Linked DNA regions of Homo sapiens. The protein of the gene in region 1 interacts with the protein of each later gene in a pairwise test. Each region holds a gene or a part of one and is shown in the gene's direction. Other genes may lie near its edges.

What was found. Proteins that work in one complex are often made in the same cells at the same time.
Region 2: the proteins of SH3PXD2A (region 1) and SVIL interact in a two-hybrid assay, tested with the Homo sapiens proteins (one study listed by BioGRID).

What each region holds. Positions count from the first base shown.
Region 1 is NC_000010.11:103,845,522-103,852,628, reverse strand, and holds part of SH3PXD2A (SH3 and PX domain-containing protein 2A), read left to right. Parts: intron 1-7,107. UniProt on the Homo sapiens protein: Adapter protein involved in invadopodia and podosome formation, extracellular matrix degradation and invasiveness of some cancer cells. Binds matrix metalloproteinases (ADAMs), NADPH oxidases (NOXs) and phosphoinositides.
Region 2 is NC_000010.11:29,624,972-29,631,971, reverse strand, and holds part of SVIL (supervillin), read left to right. Parts: intron 1-7,000.

The sequences.
Region 1 (7,107 bases):
TGTGAGTAAGGCCCTCTGGTGTGGTCAGCTGGCAGGACGTGCTGCACCCATTGCCTGTGTTCTGGAAACCCTCTACACTGGAGGAGCAAGCCTCCTTCCAGCCTTTCCTCTGCTGATGGTGAATTCTGAGTCTGTGGTTTGGTAAATTGCAGAGCAGAGAGGTTTTACGGGATGTGCGTGTTAGCCAGAGCTAGCCGATGAGAGGCCTGGGGCCCACGCAGGAGGAGCTCTGCTGGCTCCAGAGTGCTGGGAACACACTGCAAAGGTTCTCTCAGGACATTCTGCAAAGGGTTTGCTCATCCCCACGGGGAGGGGGAGCTGCCTGAACACGAAGGGTCCTGTGCTTTCGGTCAGTTCATGAAGGCACGCAAGTAGCTTCCATCATGGGGATGGCACTCAGCCCTGGCTTCCTTCTTCTCTGCCAGGCCCCTGCTTGGGGTGGGGTTGAGAAGGGCAGGCAGCTGCTACTAAGGTCAGGCTCCCTGGCATGAAGCTAGGCTCCTTTCCTGGCTTTCTGAGCTGTGCCTGGGGAGACCCTAGGTAAACTGGCTTTGGCCTCTGACCGCTTGTCTTGAAAATGGTCCTGATGATGCTGGATGCAGAATGCAGATTCCTTCGTTTGAAAGTTTTTCAGTAAAGATTTGAATTCAGGTCCACCGGGTTCTTTGTGCTCACAGGCAGGTATAGGTATATATCAATTCATGTGGTAGAGAAAAGCTCGTTTATCTAAAACAAACAAGAAATTGTATCTATTTGGATTTGGGAGGTATTGCACTTTCACAGTTGTTTTATTTCCTGATTGTTTATTTCAGACAAATACCAATCATGAATGTTCTGATCCTCTGCAGGACTCTTTGGGGAATGCAAATAATAGCCAGTTTAGCAGTTACCATCGATGGTGAAACATACTTAACACTCGTGTTTTCGTGTGATTCCTGCAGGTCATTGAATGTACCCTAATGTGGGGTAGGTTTTTGGATTCTGTTTTACAGATGAATTAACTGCAACTTGGAGCAATTCACCAACTTGCTTAGGGTCTCGCAGCTGGCACAGGGCAGAGCTAGGGCAATGCAGGTCAGGTTAGCTCCAAAGGAGGATGTGGATATAAGGTGGGGCCCTTCTCTTCAATTAGAATCCGGGCAGGAAGGCCAGGCTCAGCCCTGTTCCATGGTGACAGAGCAGTACAGGGTTGTCTTTAGGACTGCCTCACTGTAGAGACATCTACCATGTGCCCTGCAGGTGAGTTCATGGTGGGCAACGCAGGCGGGTCACTGTGAGGCAGGAGGAGTAGAGCAACTTCAGGCTGGTATCTGGTCCCCAGTAATGCTTAGGGTAATAAATTAAGGGTTGACCTTGTGGACATAATATATTCTTCCTCTGTTTAGATCATCCCAGATTTTATTCTTGGTCCTGGGAGCTACATGCTTAGGAATTGGCCCCAAACTCATTCATTTCTGTGCCCTTCTTTTTTTTTTTTTTTCTCAGCCCTTAGATTGTGACTCCAGCCCCACAGGAATGAGAATGTGCAGCCACAGCCTGCAAGGGTCTTTTTCAGGGCCAGTTCCATTATGGAATGAGTATGGTGTTGGGCAGATCAGTGCTTGAATCCTACCTGTGGCACTTCCTAGTTGTGCAACCTTGGGCTGTCACTCTGAGCCTCAGTCTCCTCACCTGTAACTTCACAGGGCTCTTGGGAAGTTGGCCTGAGATAATTTGGGGTAGTGTCTACCCAGTGCCTGACCTCACCATGGACATGCACCATATACTAGTTGCCATCTGCTGTTCCTGATCACCAAGGCACTGCAGGTGATTTAGGACCCAATCGGTCAATCTGAGAGAAAAGGAAAGACTGAGGCAAGAAGGACGGCCCAGCTTTTCACAGTCTGATGGGGAAGTGGGTTACACGCCCCATGGAAAACACCCAGCCTCCAAGAGGAACAGATAAACACAGAGCAGCTGTTCAGACCTGGAGGGGTTCCTGGAGCTGAGCATTGGGATCTGGTGGTGGCTTTCTGGTAAGCTGGGAAGAAACAGAGGTTAGGAGAGAAGGAAAGAGGTTGCTCTGGGTAAGGGCAAGGTCAAATAGGATCCTAGCCCCAAGGTCAGCACCACACATGGGTTAACACTCTTGCCTGCTCTCTCTGTCCCTCTGTCTCTCTTACACATGCACAAGCATGGGAACGGTTTCTTCTCTGGGGAGGGAAGTGATCGAGGGGTGATTCACGGGTCTGACAAGGCTCCCTGCTCATGGAACAACCAACCACACCCTTCAAGGCTGTTGGAACAGGGAGCACAGCCAGCCATTTATCGCAACCCTGTGTTGAGCTGAGTGAGGGCTTTTGGGGGGCAAACCAGGGTAGAAATTACCATGTGTGGTGGCAGGCAGAGGGGAAGGGAAGAGAAGGGAAAAATAAACCTATTTGATGTCAGAGGAGACCGATTCCAGCCCAGAAATACAAGCCCCAGCTGCTGCATTTTCCAAAGAGATATTCCGGGGCCAGCATGAGTTAACTGACCGTGGAGGCTATGAATTAGGGAAGTGTTGTTAGGACTTCTGACTTTGGGTTTGCACAGCAGTTCCCTGTAAATTGCCTTCTAATTGCCTCAGCCTGAGTCACTGACCAGACTATTTCTTGGCCAGAAAAAGTCTAATGGGCAACTGTGTTCTCTTTTACCTCTTAATTAAACAAAATGAAACAAATAATAGAGTTATACACATGGTAGTCCCACTTACTCCTCTCGAGTTCTGAGAATCCAGGAAAGGGATAGTAGATTAGGATAGGGACCCAGGGGACAGGAAGGACAAGGGGTGTGTGTGGGAAATGAGGTGGAGATTCTGGCTTTGGAAATAGGTTCTGAGTGAGGGCCAGAGGTGTTCTCTGCCATGACAATTGCCAAAAATAATGGAAGCGCCCAATAGAGTGATCAGGGCTTCCAGAGGCGGATTCCCAGAGCAGCGTGCTACTTCCTGCCTGGCCCGGGCTTCTGCTGCCTGTAGTGCAGCCAGTCACAGGTGGGCAGGTGAATGGAAGGTCAGGAGCCTAGCTGTGAAGGGGATGGGGGTCACATGAGGATCCCTCTTGTGCCTCTGGGTAACCCCCAGGCAAGTCACCATATCAGCCGCAGAGACTGAGCCCCTGCTGTGTGCATGGTGCCGGTCAGAGTCCAGCAAGGCTGTCCAGACCCCATAAGAAGGGGGAGAACTAACATACAAGCACCTACTATGTGCCAGGCAATGCAGAAGATGCCTTTAGAGGCGATTTTACTTGAACCTCATAACAACCCCATGCGGTTAGGTAGGTGTTTTTATTCCCATTTTATAGATGGGGAAATTGAAGCTCGGAGGGTTCGTATCATTCTACTCAGAGTAATTCTGTGGCAGGGCTGGGATTCTCACCCTGGTCTCTGACACCCACATCTGTGAGTGCCACTTCTTCCCCATCAGAGCTGGCTTGGTGAGAGAGAAAATAACCAGTGAGTCCAGGCAGCACCACCTGGGGATGAGGGGTGCACCTGGGAGGCTGTGTTGTCCCAGAGCACCTGTGTGCCGTATCCCTTGGCTGAGCATTGGGATATCCTGGCCCCACCACTCGCTGCCGTGGGATACAGTGCAAGTTACTTATGTCTCTGAGCCTCAGTTTCCTCATCAGTAAAAAAAAAAAAAAAAAAAAAAAAAAAAAGAATATATGGGGAAAGTTGGACCTAGCTCTTAGGGTTATGATGAAGATGAAATGAGTTTGTAATTGTAAAGAGCTTAGACCGGTACCTGGCGCCTTATGGAGCTCAGCATAAGTATTTGCTTTCACAATCACTAAGTCCTGAAGCTGTTCAGAGGAGGGAGAGCACTCTGTGAACTGGAGTTTCCAGGGAAGACCGACTGGAGAAGGCAGCTTCATGATGGACCTTGAGGTGTAATTAGGATTTGGCTGGGAAAGAGTAGGATTTAGATGGGAAAACTGGGGAAGGGCATTCCAAGAAAGAGAAAAGCAAAGGTGCTGGAGGTGGAACGTGCAAGGAAAAGCTGGGCAAAGCCGAGGGTGGATGAGGGAGAGAAGGATGACAGGAAAGCTCAGGGCCAGCTCTGAGAGGCTCCGATGGCAGCAGAGGGAATTCAGTTTATTCTGTAGACACCTTGGAACCTTCCTTTTCTCCCAAGGGCTTGGCAGGGAGAGGGAGCTAAATAGTCACTTTGAGGTCCTCCCGGTGGGCTCCAGCGCTGTTTTTGCGACTGTGCCTGGAACAGAGCTAAGTAAGGACTGGAACCTTTTTCTAGCTCTGCCTGGGGGACTCTTTAGTTGGCCAGCTGGGTCCCACCCCTCCTGTTTACAGCTCTCACTCCTAGGGGTCTGGCTTCCCCATAAAAAGTTGATTGCACCCAGGCTCCTGGGGAGGAAGGGTTGAGGAGGAGGAGGAGGAGGAGAGGGAGCAGCAGGAAGTGAGGTGTCAGCTGCTTTGGGTCTTAACTAGCTTGGGAGGGCCTGATGCAGCAGCGTTTCAGGTGGAGTAATTTCCATCCACACTCCCCCAGTGGCAAGAGCGAGAATGCGCCCATCCTCGTAGGTTCTGGGGGCCAATACCTCACAGTCTGAGGGGAGCCCAGCATGTCTGTGTCTTCTGAACCATCTACACTAATGTTGCCTTCTACTTCAGGATCTCTCTGAACTTGTTTTAGTTGGTTTTTTTTTTTTTTGAGTTGGGGTCTCGCTCTGTCACCCAGGCTGGAGTGCAGTGGTGCGATCTCGGTTCACTGCAGCCTCCGCCTCCCGGGTTCAAGCGATTCTCGTGCCTTAGCCTCCCAAGTAGCTGGGATTACAGGCATGCACCACCACACGCAGCTAATTTTTGTATTCTTAGTAGAGGTGGGGTTTTGCCATGTTGGCCAGGCTGGTCTCGAACTCCTGACCTCAGGTGATCCACTCGCCTCAGCCTCCCAAAGTGCTGGGATTACAAGTGTGACCCGCTGCGCCTGGCCTGAACTTGTTTTAGTTTTAAATGCAGTGCTTCAGCTGGGCATGGTGGCTCATGACTGTAATCCCAGTGCTTCAAAAGGCCAAAGTGGGGAGGATCACCTGAGGCCAGGAGCTCAGACCAGCCTGGACAATGTAGCAAGACCCCATCTCTACAAAAAAATTAAAAAATAAGCCAGAATAAGCCAGGTGTGGAGGCATGCGCCTGTAGTTCCAGTTACTCAGTCGGCTGAGATGGGAGGATGGCTGGAGCCCAGGAGGTTGAGCCTGCAGTAAACCGTGATCACACCACTGCACTCCAGCCTGGGTGACAGAGTGAGACCCTGTCTCAAAAAAAAAAAAAATTCTAAAAAGCTAGGCATCGTGATGAACACCTGTAGTCTAGCTACCCGGGAGGCTGAAGTGGGAAGATCACTTGAGCCCAGGAATTGGAGGCTGCAGTGAGCTATGATTATGCCACTGCATTCCAGCCTCGGCAACAGCAAGACCCTGTCTCTAAAAACAAATAAGTAAATGCAATGCTTCAAACTACCTCTTCATTTATTTGACCTCTACCACACTCCCAGATAGTCTAGTAAACCTTATTCTTAGGGAAAATGTAACAATAAAAATAACAGCTGACCTTTCTAAATGTTTTCTATGTGCTAAGCATCTCATATGGATGTTCTCAGAACAGCCCCACGCAGCATGTAGCTCCCACCAGCATCCATACTGTACAGGTGACAGCACAAAGGCTCAGAGAGCTCAAATGAATTGCCAGATGCCACGCAGCTGATGAGCTGCATGTGGAGAGGCCTGCACTGACCCAGGTCTGCTGGCTCCAAAGCCTGCCCTGTCCCCACAGAGACCGCTTAATGACACATTACACACCCAGGATGCCTGGGCTCCATGGTTCCACCTTAGGCCTAGTTGGTTGGCTCCTCAAGCCGTGAGATCTTCCACATGTCACCTCCCCCTTCTAGAACTACATTTGCCCATCTAGAAAATGGTGCAACTGTTTCTTTTCAGGCTTGCCTTGCAGAGCGGAGGGCAGGTATAACAGCTGCTTTGGAAAGCACTGAGCCCAGAGATGATAGCTGTGTGAGGAGGTCCCTTGATCCCCCAGTCTGGGTTCTTAATTATCTAGGGCAGGGATGCTATACAAAGTGAGTTGTTCCTGACCCCAGGGAATTTTTAAACAAGGTTCACCTGCCCAGCCACCTCTCCTGAGAAGCCTCATAGACAGAGTCGACTCAGGAGTACTTAGGCTCTTAGTGAAGATCTCTTCTAGAAAACGGCCTCTGGTTTTCCTTCTTTCCAAACCAATCATTTTTTTGTGAACAGGAAAAGACAGAGTTATTCCCAGTCCCATCTCTCCCTGCTGTTACCTGAGCGGAGGAAGTGATATCTAAGTGGCTGAGTTAGCAAAGGGGAAACAGCTGTGGTTTCTGCCACTCCACTGGGCTGCTTTCTCTGTCCCTGTGCTGTCATTTCCCTTTGGCTGGCGAGGAAGCCACCCTCCCCAAGCCTGGGCGGAGGCCCATGGCTGGGTCGGGGTAGACTCTGTGTGTGTGTGTCAATGCAGCATAAATTATGCAGTGGGGCGGGTGGGACAATTTAGCCTGTTTCTGGGATCCCTGGAGCATGAACTTTAGACCTGTTGGAAACTGATCACTCTTACCTGATCTGACCACAACTTCAGGGAGTCAGGAATGGAAGTAATGCCCCATGTTGAGAATGAACTTGCAGGGTGTACCAGGTGGGGTAGGGATTGATGGAGTGTGGGCTGGTTTGCACTTTTGCCTATCACTGTGTGGTCCCTGATGGAGAACCTACGTTGTTTTCCTTTTTTGAGGCGTACTCTCACTAAAGGAGACCTTGGCACGTATTGTATCACCATCATCATCATAGAGCTGTTACAGGAAAGGGGTCCCGATCCAGACCCCCAGAGAGGGTTCTTGGATCTCCAGCAAGAAAGAATTCAGGGCAAGTCCATAGAGTAAAGTGAAGGCAAGTTTATTAAGAAAGTAAAGGAATAAAAGAATGGCTGCTCCATAGACAGAGCAGCCCCGAGGGCCACTGGTTACCCATTTTTATGGTTATTTCCTGATGATATGCTAAACCAGGGGTGTATTATTCATGCTTCCTCTTGTGAGACCAT
Region 2 (7,000 bases), about 74 Mb from region 1:
CGCTGATCTCAGGGTGCCTTGCTGTGACTGGGAGTATCCGTAGGTCTAGAACTTTCCAGCAGTTCTGGGCTTCATTGATTTGTGACTCAACTAGGAATCTTCTGGTCACCCTTGACTCCTCTCCCTTTAGGTCCCCGAGGCCTCTGCCCCACCACCTCCTCTTAAGCCTCGCCATCTTTTTTATTTTTTATTTTTTTGAGATGGAGTCTCACTCTGTCAGCCAAGCTGGAGTGCAATGGCACAATCTCGGCTCACTGCAATCCCTGCCTCCCGGGTTCAAGGGATTCTCCTGCCACAGCCTCCTGAGTAGCTGGGATTACAGGTGTCCGCCACCACGCCCGGCTAATTCTTGTATATTTAGTAAAGATGGGGTTTCACCATGTTGGTCAGGCTGGTCTCGAAATCCTGACCTCATGATCTGCCCACCTCGGCCTCCCAAAGTGCTGGGATTACAGGTGTCCGCCACCACGCCCGGCTAATTCTTGTATATTTAGTAAAGATGGGGTTTCACCATGTTGGTCAGGCTGGTCTCGAAATCCTGACCTCATGATCTGCCCACCTCGGCCTCCCAAAGTGCTGGGATTACAGGCATGAGCCACCGCGCCTGGCCTCGCCTCGCCATCTCTTACCTGGGCTACTGCTTTGCCCTTAATGGATCCCTTGGCCCTCGGTTTCTCCTCCGTCTGGTCTAGCCACAGAATGACCTTCCTAAACAAAGATCTCATCTTGCACTCGGCCAGGGCCAAACCCTCATCGTTCCTCACTGCTTACATGCAAAAGCCTGGGCTCTGTAGCCTCCCCTTCAGGGTCTTTCATGCCCCTGGAGTTCTGTTGGCAAGTCTCCCCAAAATGTTGTCTTCTCTTGCCTGCCAGGGAAGCAATATCAAAGGAGATGTGCCAGAAGCTTCCTCTGACATGCCTCTGGCCTCCTGGGCCTCGACTCCAGCCTGTACTCTAGGGCTGCAGTCACTAGGTCCTGGTGGCCCTTTCCTTGGCAGCAGGGTACCCAGTGAGGTGCTTGGGTCTCACTTCTCTTACCACCCCCAGGGTCTAGCCCAGTGGGCAATCCAGAAATGTGAGTTGTTTGAACGGATTGAATTGTAACGACTTGTGGGTTCTTCATATCGAAATTTGGCTGTGATCCATCCAGTACTTTTGCCCTCATCCTATATTACTCACAGTAGAAGCTGGTGTTCTGTGTTATAAGTTCTCCTTTTTTTTCCTTCATCTATGACAATGCAAGCAGAAACGTTCGTGTTGCGGTAACAAGTCCGATGGGGTTTCTGTATATGGGGTTTCTGTACACGTGCTTTTGCCAACCGGGAAATTAAGGTGTGCCGCATGAAGTCAGTCACTTCATTATTGGAACTTTGCCTAAAATGAAGAAACTCATCTAGTGGTGCAATTTGACCTAAGTGTTTTACCCATACAGTCAACTTCAACTTGGGTCACACATCTCAGGAGCAGTTTGCACTGTTGATCTCAGGGGCTCTTTAGTATTGGTTCAGAGAGATCTCTGTCCCTCTTAGAGACACTCCCTATTGTAGGAGGTTTTGAAAGAGGCATTCTTTTTCCTCCTAATGTGCTTGTCCCCTTCTGAAAGTTGATCCTTTAATCCCAAACAAGTTTATAACCTATGTCTAACTGGTTTTTGTGTAAATATAGTAAAAGAAATAGTTTCCATATTTGCTTTGGGATCATTGGTCTGCCCATGTCACAGCCCTGGGTACATTCATTTCAGTCCATATTTTTGGGGCACTTTCCCTGTGCAGAGCTCCGGGTGGGTCCTGTGGGATGCAGAAGCCTATAGCGTATTCCCTCTCATTGGCAGCCTCTTTCCCAGAGTGTCTCGGACAGGGATGTAATGGAGCTATTTTACCAGTCAGAGTAGAAGGGATGAACAATAATAACATGCCATCCATTATTACTGTGTGCCAGACTTAATGCCACACTCTTTACCTCTACAATATATCACTTAATTATTTTTATTTTTTGAGACAGTCTTGCCTGGTCACCCAGGTTGGAATGCAATGGCATGACCATGGTTCACTGCAGCCTCGAACTCCTGGGCTCAAGCATTCCTCCTTCCTCAGCCTCCCGAGTAGCTGGGACTATAGGCAATCACTACTATGCCCAGCTAATTAAAAAAAAAAATTCTAGAGGCAGGGGTCTCACTATGTTGCTCAGGCTGGTCTTGAGCTCCTGGCCTCAAGCTATCCTCCCATTAAGGCCTCTCAAGGCACTGGGATTACAGGTGTGAGCCACCACGCCCGGACTCTAATTTTTACAGTAGCCCCCAAGAAATATTAGTGCAATTGTCTTCATTCTACTGAGGAAAAAACTGAGGGTTAGAAATGCTTGCCCAAGCTTGGGCACATACCATGTGCCCAAATCCAGCTGGATTTGAACCCAGATCTAGTTGACTTCAGTGCCTGTATTCATAACCGCTGCTTTAGCCAGTGCAGCCCAAACTTTAATAGGAATCACCTGCAGTCTTGTTACTGCAGCGTCTGATTCAGTAGGTCTGCACTGGACTTAGAGATTCAACAAACAGGATCCAGGTGATGCTAATTCCTGTCTGAGGACCTGCTTTGAGCCGCCTTAGGTTAATTCTTTGCCACGTGCCTGAGATGGAAGCAACCAGCTGGGGTGCGGGACTCGAAGGGGGCTTCCGAGGAGGAGAAGGAGTCTTTCAAGGCTCCTCTGTTCCTCTAGGCTTTTCATGCCACCCCTTCCCGCTCTCTACCTACACCATTCTCTCCCGTTTGTCTTATTTTCCACTCTGCTCTTCTCCTGGCTTCTCCTTGTGTTGAAAACATCCTCAGGTTTCATCCATTCTAAATAAAGCTCCCCTTGACCTCAAGCGATCACTTCTTTCTTTCCTGCCCACTCACTCCTCAGCACTGATCAGGAGCTCTTCTGTCTTCTCCTCTTGGACACCTTTCAAGACCTCCTGGTTACTTTGATGTCCCCGCAGCCTCCCTGGGATGGAACCCCTCTCCGTGAGAATCCCATCTCAGGTCTAGTGAGGGTGATGGGGCTCTGACCTCCATACTCAGCATCCACACCCTGCTGTGATCTTGAGGTCTCCTGGCGGCCTTATTTTAAAAATCATTTTCTGTCTCTTTGCTTGCTCAGCTTTCCTTCTTAAGGTCCATTTAAGATTTTTTAAAAAATCCTGGTGTTCCTCTTTATAAGGTGAATTGTTCAACATGTCCATTTCAGGTGGAATGCATTCATTTGGCTTTTAGAACTGATTTTCTGTTTGTAAGTAGAAATTAACTCCCAATTAGCTGTGTGAGAATTTGTATCCTCTGTATCTGCTATCAATAGAAAAGAACAATTCGGTTCTGGGCGAAGACCCAAAGGGCTTTTTATTAATAATGCACCTACGATTTGTGAACTGTGTTTAGGTTCATCAGAGGCCTCTCGTTTCTTTCTGGACTTTCAATTACGTTCTGAGCATGGAAAGTTGGCAAATAACTTAGGCTTGGATGGATAGATACAGTCATTGAATAGAAAAACCATATTGATATTTTTAGGTTTTTAAGATCTCACATACTTTAAATATTTCAAAATTTTAAGTAAATACTCTTTCATACATTCTGAAACATTATATCTAATTTATCTCAGCCAAAAATTTAAGACATATACATGTTGCAGTTGCACACCTGTTACTCCAAAACAAACAAACCGCTCCAGCCAAAACCCAAATGGGAAAGCACTTGATTTTCAGTAGCTTAAAATATGTTGAATTAAGAGGTAGGTTATGAAAGTGAAAATGACATCTGAATGTTTTAGTGGTTTTGGATATAAATTTTCTTAGGAATTTTTTGTTTGAGTTAAGCTGATAGTTTAGTTTACTGTGTGCTATGTTGGTTGCAAAATTCAGCTACATTTGTTTATTTTGCAATTAATTCAATTTGTTTGCAAATATTGCATCAGACATCTAAACCAGCTAATAACTCTATAGGTTTGAGCCAGGTTAGAAAAAAAGGCTTGGCTGTACCGTTAAGAAGCAGCTAGCTCTCTAAATTGTGCTGATAGTCTTAATTTCCCCCGGATGTTCATTTTAGCCACACACACATAACCATTTGGATTTATGATTTCATACATTTTTTATTGGAAGTGCTGAATATTTTAAAATTCTGTGATTAGATAAAATTGGTCATTGTGCTTCAGAATAGGGTGACTCAGCTTCATGGGATGTACTTTACCCAACACAGGATTCTCCCATTTGAGATGGAATTTATTAATTTGGATTTGTATCAGGTCTTCACTCCAGAGGCATCAGAGAGCTTTCAGGCAGCCAACTATTCTTAAATATTTCAAAAGGAAGTTGCAGTGGGCACGTGGCGTGGAGAACACAGCAGAGCAAAGTGATGTAGGGGCCATAACAGCCAACATGCTTTGTTTCCTTCATTCATTCACCTACCTCCCCAAAAGTCCAAAGAAGTGTTTTCCCTGCTCTCGGTGCAGGAGGAAGATTTTATCTGGAAATTGAAGGTGTCAATGGCCAGAGAAAGAAGGAGGAACATTGATTTTCATGAATAACCAGCTGTGTGACCTTGGGTAAATTCTTAACCTCTCTGAGCCTCAGTGGCCTCATTCATTCAAACAAGGGTTGGACTAGAGGATTTTTAAGACCCCTTTTACGTATTGGGATTCTGTAATCCAAAGGTTTCAGAGATCGAGAATAATCTGTCTTCCTTGGAAAGGCAACACCTTGTATCTGGAAGGTAGTAGTTCAAGGTGGGAGAGCAGGAACAAATTAGAAATGTGTTGAGAAAGAAGATCTTTTTTAAAAAGTCCTCTCACTGTCCTTGCTTGTTTCTGTTGAAATACACAGACTGTTTCTCCCTTCTCTGATGGCTTCATAATCATTCTTTGTCTTTGATTCTTATTATTTATTTTATTTTATTTTATTTTATTTTCATTTTATTTTTTTGAGATGGAGTCTCGCTCAGTCTCCCAGGCTGGAGCTCAGTGGCGCAATCTCGGCTCACTGCAAGCTCCGCCTCCCGGGTTCACACCATTCTCCTGCCTCAGCCTCCTGACTAGCTGGAACTACAGGCGCCCGCCACCACGCCCAGCTAACTTTTTGTATTTTTAGTAGAGACGGGGTTTCACCGTATTAGCCAGGATGGTCTTGATCTCCTGACCTCGTGATCCACCCGCCTCCGCTTCCCAACGTGCTAGGATTACAGGCCTGAGCCACCGCGCCCAGCCTGATTCTTTATTTTGGAAAGTTTCTGACACCTCTTTAAATTAAGCTCTCATAGTTTCTTTTGTGTTCATTTAAGTATGTCTATTTTCTTTTCTCTAACCTAATTTATTTTTATCTTCTTTTGGACATTTGTTTTTTCTCCTGATGTGAAACCCCAAAGTGGTCACAGCAGACTCGCTCAGGGATGCCTGAGACCGTCAGAATCTTCGTGTTCACAACAAGATGGGATGTGCTTGGCTTTCGTTTCCCTTTGAGTTTATTAGTTCACTGCCAGGTATTCATTTATTCTCAACAGTTGTTTTCTGAGCACTTACTGTGTGTCAGGGACTGGTATAGGTGTTGGGGAAAGAGCGGTGGGAAACAAAATTCCTGCCCTCGTAGCGTTTAAGTTCCAATGGAATGGTACTAAAGTACCCTGAGCGATTCTCTTGATCTTCAGCCCTACATCTGTTGTTCAAGTGCTTAGGTTAATAACAAAATGTAAAATACCTACCATGGTTTCACATAGTTATGTGTGTCTGATGTAGGGGCCATAACCGTGTGTGTGTGCCTTGAGAAAACTTAAGATCTACTTCTTGGCAAATTTTAAATATATAATACATTGTTAGCAACTATAGTCACCATGCTATACCTTAGGTTTCCAGAACTTACTCGTAACTACAAGTTTGCATCCTTTGACCAATGTCTTTCCAATTTCTCCTACCTCCAGCCCCTGGTTACCACCTTTCCATTTTGTTTCTGTGAGTTCAGCTTTTATATCAAAACATCATGCTGCACACCTTGAGTATATACAATTTGCATTTGTGAATTATACCTCAAAGCTGAAAAAAGACCCCAAAAAACCCGGCATGGTTCCTAACCAAAGGAGACACTTGTAAGGCTTTGTATCCTCCTACAGTTTGCATTTTGTATCTTCTGAAATTCTCTCTTCCCCTAGAATTCATACTGATAAAGCTTATACGCATTTCAAAATATATGTTTGAGGCTGGGCGTGGTGGCTCATGCCTGTAGTCCCAGCACTTTGGGAGGCCAAGGCGGGTGGATCACGAGATCAGGAGATCGAGACCATCCTGGATAACATGGTGAAACCTCGTCTCTACTAAAAATACAAAAAATTATCGGGCATGGTGGTGGGCACCTGTAGTCCCAGCTACTCGGGAGGCTGAGGCAGGAGAATGGCGTGAACCCAGGAGGCAGAGCTTGCAGTGAGCAGAGATCGCGCCGCTGCACTCCAGCCTGGGCAACAGAGTGAGACTCCGTCTCAAAAAAAAGGAAAAAAAATATATATATATGTATACTTGAGGCAAGTACAAGTCAAGTACCCATCTCTCTCTATTTTTAAAATTCATGCTTTCTCTGCTATCATAACATTCGGTCTATAAAACGTTGATTTCATTACCAAGGCAAAGGTTGATGTTGATATCAAGCAGGATGTTACAGAAATAAATCATTGGATCCACTTTACTTCTTTCTTACTTTCAGACTTTGTCTCAGAACTTTATTAAACTTAGCAAAAGTTAAAAAGAAAGGTAGTCTTAACTGAAGACTTTGAGATGATTTTAGAAGGAGTTTAGTAACATTGGATGAACTATTGTGTGTCACTAATCATGTCAGAGAATGTAACTTACAACTGAAACTTTGGAGTCTGTAATCTTTCTGTGTGTTTTTTTTTTCTTTTTAAGACGATTCACCTGGTCACTTCTATCACTGGGTGAAGCTGATTGTATATAAGCTAGATCTGCCTTCTGCCTACCTTTATGTTAGTACTATTTT